Linked DNA regions of Homo sapiens. The protein of the gene in region 1 interacts with the protein of each later gene in a biochemical or structural test. Each region holds a gene or a part of one and is shown on either strand. Other genes may lie near its edges. The genes, in order: SARNP and DDX39A.

Evidence for each region.
Region 2: the proteins of SARNP (region 1) and DDX39A form a complex in vitro, tested with the Homo sapiens proteins (2 studies listed by BioGRID).

The regions. Positions count from the first base shown.
Region 1 is NC_000012.12:55,810,860-55,814,773, forward strand, and holds part of SARNP (SAP domain-containing ribonucleoprotein), read right to left. Parts: intron 1-3,914. UniProt on the Homo sapiens protein: Binds both single-stranded and double-stranded DNA with higher affinity for the single-stranded form. Specifically binds to scaffold/matrix attachment region DNA. Also binds single-stranded RNA. Enhances RNA unwinding activity of DDX39A.
Region 2 is NC_000019.10:14,417,508-14,421,421, reverse strand, and holds the start of DDX39A (ATP-dependent RNA helicase DDX39A), read left to right. Parts: upstream 1-2,080; 5' UTR 2,081-2,152; intron 2,153-2,369; exon of another isoform or gene 2,370-2,493; intron 2,494-3,914. UniProt on the Homo sapiens protein: Helicase that plays an essential role in mRNA export and is involved in multiple steps in RNA metabolism including alternative splicing. Regulates nuclear mRNA export to the cytoplasm through association with ECD.

The DNA.
Region 1 (3,914 bases):
TGAGGTCAGGAGTTCAAGACCAGCCTGGCCAACATGGTGAAACTCTGTCTCTACTAAAAATACAAAAATTAGCCAGACGTGGTGGCAGGCACCTGTAATCCCAGCTACTCGGGAGGCTGAGGCAGGAGAAGGGCTTGAGCCCGGGAGGCAGAGGTTGCAGTGAGCCAAGCCAAGACCACGCCACTGCACTCCAGCCTGGGTGACAGAGCGAGACTCCATCCCAAAAAAAAAAAAAGAAATCATCTTTTTCATGTTATGTCAACATATAGTTTGTAAATTCTTTGAAGGCAGAGATGTTTTAGACCACCTATAACATATATGATGGGAACTCAAAATCCTTACAAGGAACCTAAGTGGTTGGTATTACAATTAGGCTTAAAGAAATTCAATAACTTGCTTAAATATCACACAGCTTGGCCAGGTGTGGTGGCTCATGCCTGTAATCCCAGCACTTTGGGAGGCTGAGGTGGGAGGATTGCTCAAAGCCAGGAGTTTGAGGCCAGCCCTGGGCAACACGGGTAGACTCTGTCTCTACAGAAAATTAAAAAATTAATACACAGTTCAGGTGTGGTGGTGTGCCCCTGTAGTCCCACCTACTGGGTGGGAGCAGGGGCTGAGGTGGATCACTTGAGTCCAGAAGACTGAAGCTGCAGTGACCCCTGATTGTGCCACTACACTCCAGCCTGGGAGAAAAAGCGAGACACTGTCTCAAAAAACAAACAAACAAACAAACAAACAAACAAACAAACCACAGCTTGTAAATAGTAGACCAATATGCCAGCTCAAGTGTCTCTGATTTATGCTCAATATTAACTGCCAAAGTCTTGGCACTTCTTTCTTTCACTCTCTCCTCCTCAGCCTCCTTGCTAGCTCTTCTTCCACTCAAACCTGTAAATATTCACTAAGATTCCTTCTTTGGGCGTCTTGTCATTCCACATATATCAAAGGCTAATTCACTTCCCGATTTCAATCAGCGGCAAAGTCTATCAGCATTATCTTTAAAATATATCCAAAATCAAACCCTTCTCACCACGGCAAATGCTACTACTCTAGTCTTTCTTTCATACAGATTATTGTCAAAATTCTTCAGCCCTTGCCTCACTATAGTTTATTCTCAACAAAGTAACAGAGTGATCTTTTGAAAATTTAAGTCAGAACATGTCACTCCTCTAGTCAAACATCATCCATTGGTTTCGTATCTCACTAAGGGTAAAAGGCTGAATCCTATCACCTAAAAGGCCCTGCAGCTTTGCCCTCCCCTACCATTACCTTATTACCATTGCTCACTCTGATAAGCCAAACTGGTCTTGTGCTATTCCTCTAACACTTTGCACATAGCTCATTCCTTCACGTCCTTCAACTCTTTTTGTAAACATCTCCTTGTTAATGACTTCCCCAGTCACTCTATTTAAAATTACAATACCCTTCCCATTGTACTCCCTATTCCTTTCTCCTATTTTTCTCTATGTGCCTTATCAATCACTATTTGACATACCATAAATTTTACTTTTTATTTTGCCTTCCCTCAGTAAAATACAAGCTCTATGAGAGCAAGGATTTTGTCTCTGTTGTTCACTGCTGTATCTTTGGCACCCACAGTAACTGGGACATGGCAGGTGCTCCATATTTTCTGAATAAATCCCAAGTCTTCATCATCAGCTTTCAGCTCTTGAGTGAAAGACCCACATTTCCAACTGACTACCTGACATGTCCAAGTGGATGTCCCACAGACACCTAAGCCTCAAAATGAACTTACCTCTTCTGTGCAAAACTGGCTTCTCCTCCTCCCAACCCAGACTAAAGGTATCACTACCCAAACCCTGGAGTCATCTTTCATTTTTCCCATATCTAACTGATCTATAAATACTTGAAATTCTACTACATCCTAAATGTCTTTCAAATTCATTCCCATTCTTTTGAAGTCTTGACATGCTTATTCACTCAACAAATCGTTATTGAGCACCTACTGTATTATCAAGTATTATCTTGGATACAGGGAAATAATCATGAGCAAAACATAAGAGTCCTTCCCATTCCGAGCTTACAATCTTGCAGAGAACAAACCAATCAATGATCAGATAGCGTTTAGCTGATTTTTTTTTTTTGAGACGGAGTCTCACTCTGTTGCCCAGGCTGGAGTGCAATGGCGCGATCTCGGCTCCTGCAACCTCCGCCTCCTGGGTTCAAGTGATTCTCCTGTCTCAGCCTCCCGAGTAGCTGGGATTACAAGTGCGCGCCACCAGGCCCAGCTACTTTTGGTATTTTTAGTAGAGATGGGGTTTCACCATATTGGTCAGGCTGGTCTCAAACTCCTGACCTCGTGATCTGCCCACCTTGGCCTCCCAAAGTGCTGGGATTACAGGCATGAGCCACCGTGCCCGGCATGTTTAGCTGATTTTTTAAGAACACACAGGGTCTTATGAAATTATATAAAAAGTGGCCTGACCATGTTTGTGGATAGAACATAGAAAGCTTCCTTGGGTAAATAATATTTGAGTGAAACACCTGAAAGGGGTGTAGTAATTAATTAGATAAACGTGTTAGGGAGGAAGGGCAGCCGGAGTACTACAGCCGAAAGAAAACTCCAATTGCAGCATATGTGAAGGTTCTAGGTTGAGGTAAGAGGGAGAAGCAGTGTGCAATGATTAGAACATGAATTTTGGACACAGGCTGCCTGGAATTTTTTTTTTTTTTTTTTTTTTGAGACGGAGTTTCACTTTTGTTGCCCAGGCTGGAGTGCAATGGTGCCATATCGGCTCACCGCAACCTCCACCTACGCGGTTCAAGTGATTCTCCTGCCTCAGCCCCCCGAGTAGCTGGGATTACAGGCATGTGCCATCACGCCCAGCTAATTTTGTATTTTTAATAGTGACGGGGTTTCTCCATGTTGGTCAGGCTGGTCTCGAACTCTCGACCTCAGGTGATCCGCCTGCCTCGGCCTCCCAAAGTACTGGGATTACAAGCGTGAGCCACTGCACCCAGCCTGCTTGGATTTAATATACAACATTTTAGCTGTGCAACCTAAGGCAAGTTACTCAGTTACTCTCTCTGAGCTATGGTTTTTCTTATTTTCAAATGAGGATAATACAGGTATTTACCTTACAGGGTTATTATGAGAATTAAATCAGTTAGTGTATGTAAATGGCTTCAAACAGTGCTTTGCCACATAACAAATGCTAAGTGTTGGCAATTGATGAAGCATTCTGAAGAAATTAAATAAAATAAGGCCACAGTAGTTGAAGAGTTAGTAACTATGCTGGAGAGACGGGCAGGGATATAATTTAAAGGTTTTAAGCAGGGGAATGACTCCTATAATAAATATCTAAGTGGTGAAATCGCTCCCCCTACAAATCCCATCCGCCAAGAGAATACAAGCTGATCACATCAAGCTCCTCCTTTCAAACTTCCAAAGGCTCCCAGCCCTACTTCTTACATGACAAAGGCCAGAAGTCCTTACATAACTTAGAAAGCCCTTTTCAATATCACTCTGATTTACCTTTATAGTTTACCTATTTTCCTTTCCAAACTATCTTCAACTACCAATATATTTCCTCACTTCACTTTTCAATACAAATGTCTCACTATTCTCAACACTCTGACACTACTATCACTTTCTCCTCTCCTCTGCAATAGTTCCTTTTCTAATGTTTGACTGGATATCTGATACTGTTACAGTTCAAGCCATTTTCATCCACAGTTCAATCTCTCTTTCCAAATGTGTTAGTATGGGCCAGGAGTGGTGGCTCATGCCTATAATCCCAGCACTTTGGGAGGCCAAGGCAAGAGGATCACCTGAGGTCAGTCAAGTCCAGCCGGACCAATAACATGGTGAAACCCCATCTCTACTAAAAATACAAAAATTAGCCAGGCATGGTGGCACGTGCCTGTAATCCCAGCTACTCGGGAAGCTGAGG
Region 2 (3,914 bases), on another chromosome or scaffold:
CCCAGGCTGGAGTGCAGTGGTGCAATCATAGCTCACTGAAGCCTCAAACTCCTGGGCTCGAACAGTCCTCCTGCCTCAGCCTCCCGAGTAGCTGGGAGTACAGGTATCAACCACCATGCTTGGCTAATTTTTATTTTATTTTATTTTATTTTTTGTAGAGATGAGGTCTCACTATGTTGCCTAGGCTGGTCTTGAACTCCTGGCCTTAGGTGATCACTCTTGTTGCCCAGTCTGGAGTGCAATGGTGCGAACTCGGCTCACTGCAACCTCCACCTCCCAGGTTCAAGCGATTCTCCTGCCTCACCCTCCCGAGTAGCTGGGATTACAGGCATGCGCCACCACGCCCGGCTAATTTTGCATTTTTAGTACAGACGGGGTTTCTCCATGTTGTCAGGCTGGTCTCAAACTCCTGACCTCAAGTGAACCGCCCTCCTTGGTCTCCCAAAGTGCTGGGATTATAGGCAGGAGCCCTGGTGCCCGCTGATCCTTTCTTTACTTGGCATTTTCTTTTTCTTTTCTTTTCTTTTTTTTTTTTTGAGACGGAGTCTCGCTCTGTTGCCGAGGCTGGAGTGCAGTGGCGCGATCTCGGCTCACTGCAAGCTCCGCCTCCCGGGTTCACGCCATTCTCCTGCCTCAGCTTCCCGAGTAGCTGGGATTACAGGCGCCCGCCAACACGCCCGGCTAATTTTTCTATTTTTAGTAGAGACGGAGTTTCACCATGTTGGCCAGGATGGTCTCAAACTCCTGACCTCAGGTAATCCACCCACCTCGGCCTCCCAAAGTGCTGGGATTACAGGTGTCAGCCACCACGCTCGGCCTGCAAAACCCCACCTTTACCAAATTTTTAAAAATTAGCTGGGCATGATAGGTAACAAGAGTGACACCCTGAAGAAAGAAAGAAGAAAGTGGAGGGAAAGAGGGAGGAAGGATGATAGGAAAATAAATCTGCCAGGATCTAATAAAGCTTAGTGACCATGCCACCATGCCACTCCTAAGTATTTAAAAGAAATGAAAATTTATCTTCCCCAAAATACTCTTACAGTACAAGCTCTATTAACAGTGGCCAAAGACCGGAAACAATCAATTGGCCAAGAACAGGTGAGTGAAACTATATTGGCTACATTATAGTATAGCCACACAATGAAATACCACTCAGCAGTAAAAAATAACGAGCTGTTGATATCCCCACAACATGGACAACTCTCAAAAACACTTTGCTGCGGCCAGGCAGGGTGGCTCATGTAATCCCAGCACTTTGGGAGGCGGAGATGGGCAGATCACATGAGGCCAGGAGTTCGAGACCAGCCTGGCCAACATGGCGAAACCCCTCTCTACTAAAAATATGAAAATTAGCCAGGTGTGGTGGCGGGCGCCAGCAGTCCCAGCTACTCAGGAGGCTGAGGCAGGAGAATCGCTTGAACCCGAGAGGCGGAGGTTGTGGTGAGCAGAGATCGCGCCACTGCACTCCAGCCTAGGTGACAGAGCCAGACTCCGTCTCAAAAAAACAGCTTTGTTGAGCAAAAGTCAGACACAAAAGACAACCTATTGCATGCTTCTACTAACGTGAAAATCAAGGAGACAAAACTATCGTGGAGCGATAGAAATCCAAATACTGCAAAATGTTCTGTCCATTTGAGTCATTCCAAGCTCCCTATTCTTTTCAGAGCCTACACTGTGGAGGACCCCCAGGCCGCAGATTGATAGCAACTGGGACAGTTCTGGTTTCAGCGCCCAGCGCAGACGCCACTCTTCGAAAAGGTGGGGCACACGCCAAAACGCAATCATCCGGTCTTCAGTTATCAGTACTAAACATGGCGGCTCCCACCGAGCACCACACCCAGATCACGAGACCGCGCGCTGTCGGAGCCAGTCTGTCGGCTCACTGGGGCGCGCCTACTTTTAGATTGACCAATAAACGCGAGGCGTAAGGCACGCCCTCTTTCTTCCCGTCTCCGCCAATAATCTCCCGGTCCCTTCCACAGGACCCAATCACCGCTTCGGCCTCTCTTGAATGAAAAGGCAGCGGCCCAGTCAGCAGAGCAGCAGCCCGACGCAAGAGGCAGGAAGCGCAGCAACTCGTGTCTGAGCGCCCGGCGGAAAACCGAAGTTGGAAGTGTCTCTTAGCAGCGCGCGGAGAAGAACGGGGAGCCAGGTGAGCAGCGGATCCCGGGCGCGGGGCCGCGGTGTGGGGACGTCTGAACTGAGAGCGAGAGGACGAGGGGAGACGTTGGGATCTAAGGGGAGGGGGAGAAAGGGTCGCGAGACGGTGGGGGCGGGGCGGTTGGTGTGTCAGAGCGCTGTGTGTTGGCCGTTGGGCACCGGGGCGCATGCGCTAGGGGTGGGCCAGCCGTTGGCGCGCGGTGCTCGGGGCTCGGGGCCCGCTTCTCGGAGGGGCTGTCATGGCCTACGGCGCTCCGAGCCCCACTTGGAGTCTGTCAGTTCGTCCGAATAGACCCCGCGGCGGCCTGGGGCCATTTGGAGAGGGACGAGGGGGTGACGCCGGGGTCTGGGGCCTGGGTGGGAGAAGTTGGAGCTTTCAGTTGTCAGGGGTTTCTTTGGGTCCGAGGGACTTGATCCCTTTCCCAGTCTACCTTCTTCTTGGTCTACTTTTTACGGGATTCGGGATTCTGAGATTTAGAGCAAATAAGACTTTATTTTGGAAGGCCGGGCGCGGTGGCTCTTGTAATCTCAGTACTTTGGGAGAGACCAAGGAGGGCGGATCACTTGAGGTCAGGAGTTCGAGACCAGCCTGGCCAACATGGTGAAACCTCGTCTCTACTCAAAATACAAAAAAAAATCAGCCGAGCGTGGTGGCGAGCGCCTGTGGTCCCAGCTACTCGGGAGGCTGAGGCACGAGAATCGCTTGAACCCGGGAGGTGGAGGTTACAGTGAGCCGAGATCGCGACACTGCACTCCAGCCTGGGTGACAGAGCGAGATTCTGCCTCAAAAAAAACAGAATGAAAAAAAGATTTTCTTTTGGAAATAGGAGTCCCCAGGTGGGAATAAACTCCGGGGTGGAAAGCCTGCCTGGGGACACTTGAGGGTAACTGGGTACACGTGGCGTGTCTGGGTTGTGAGTTCCCCGCTGTCACCTTTCAAGTTCATGCGCTCCTGGCGCCTTAGCGGTCATGGCCACCCACTTTGGGCGGGGAAAACCCCGCCGGATCCTTTCCTGATCTAATCAGTTTTGAGCTTTAGATCCTGTCCAGCCCGGTTTCTCGAAAATTTTATCTTAGCAGATTCGGTTCACCCCAATTTATTTATCTCTCTCTCTCTTTTTTTTTTTTTTTTTTTTTTTTTGAGACAGAGCCTTGCTCTGTCGCCCAGGCTGGAGTGCAGTGACACTATCTCGGCTCACTGCAGCCTCCGTCTTCCGGGTTCAAGCAAGCACATCCGGCTAATTTTTGTATTTGTAGTAGAGACGGGGTTTCACCATGTTGCCCAGGCTTGTCTCTAATTCCCGACTTCAAGTGATCCGCCCGCTTCGCCTCCCAAAGTGCTGGGATTACAGGCATGAGCCACCACGCTGGGCCCCAATTTCTTTTTTTAAATTTATTTTTCTTGAGAAAGGGTCTCCCTCTGTCACCCAGGCTGGAATGCCATGGCGCCATCACTGGCAGCCTCGACCTCCTGGCTCAAGCGATCCTCCCGGCACAGCCTCCCAAGTAGCTGGGACTACAGGCCCATGCCACCACACCGGGCTAATTTTTTTCTTTTTTTAATTTCTACTTATTTATTTTTTAGCCTTTGCTACATAGAAGGTGCCCCTTGGGCTATGTGTTTTTTAAGTTTTTTTAAGTTTTAGGGTACATGTGCACAACGTGCAGGTTTGTTACATATGTATACATGTGCCATGTTGGTGTGCTGGACCCGTTAACTCGTCATTTGCATTAGGTATATCTCCTAATGCTGT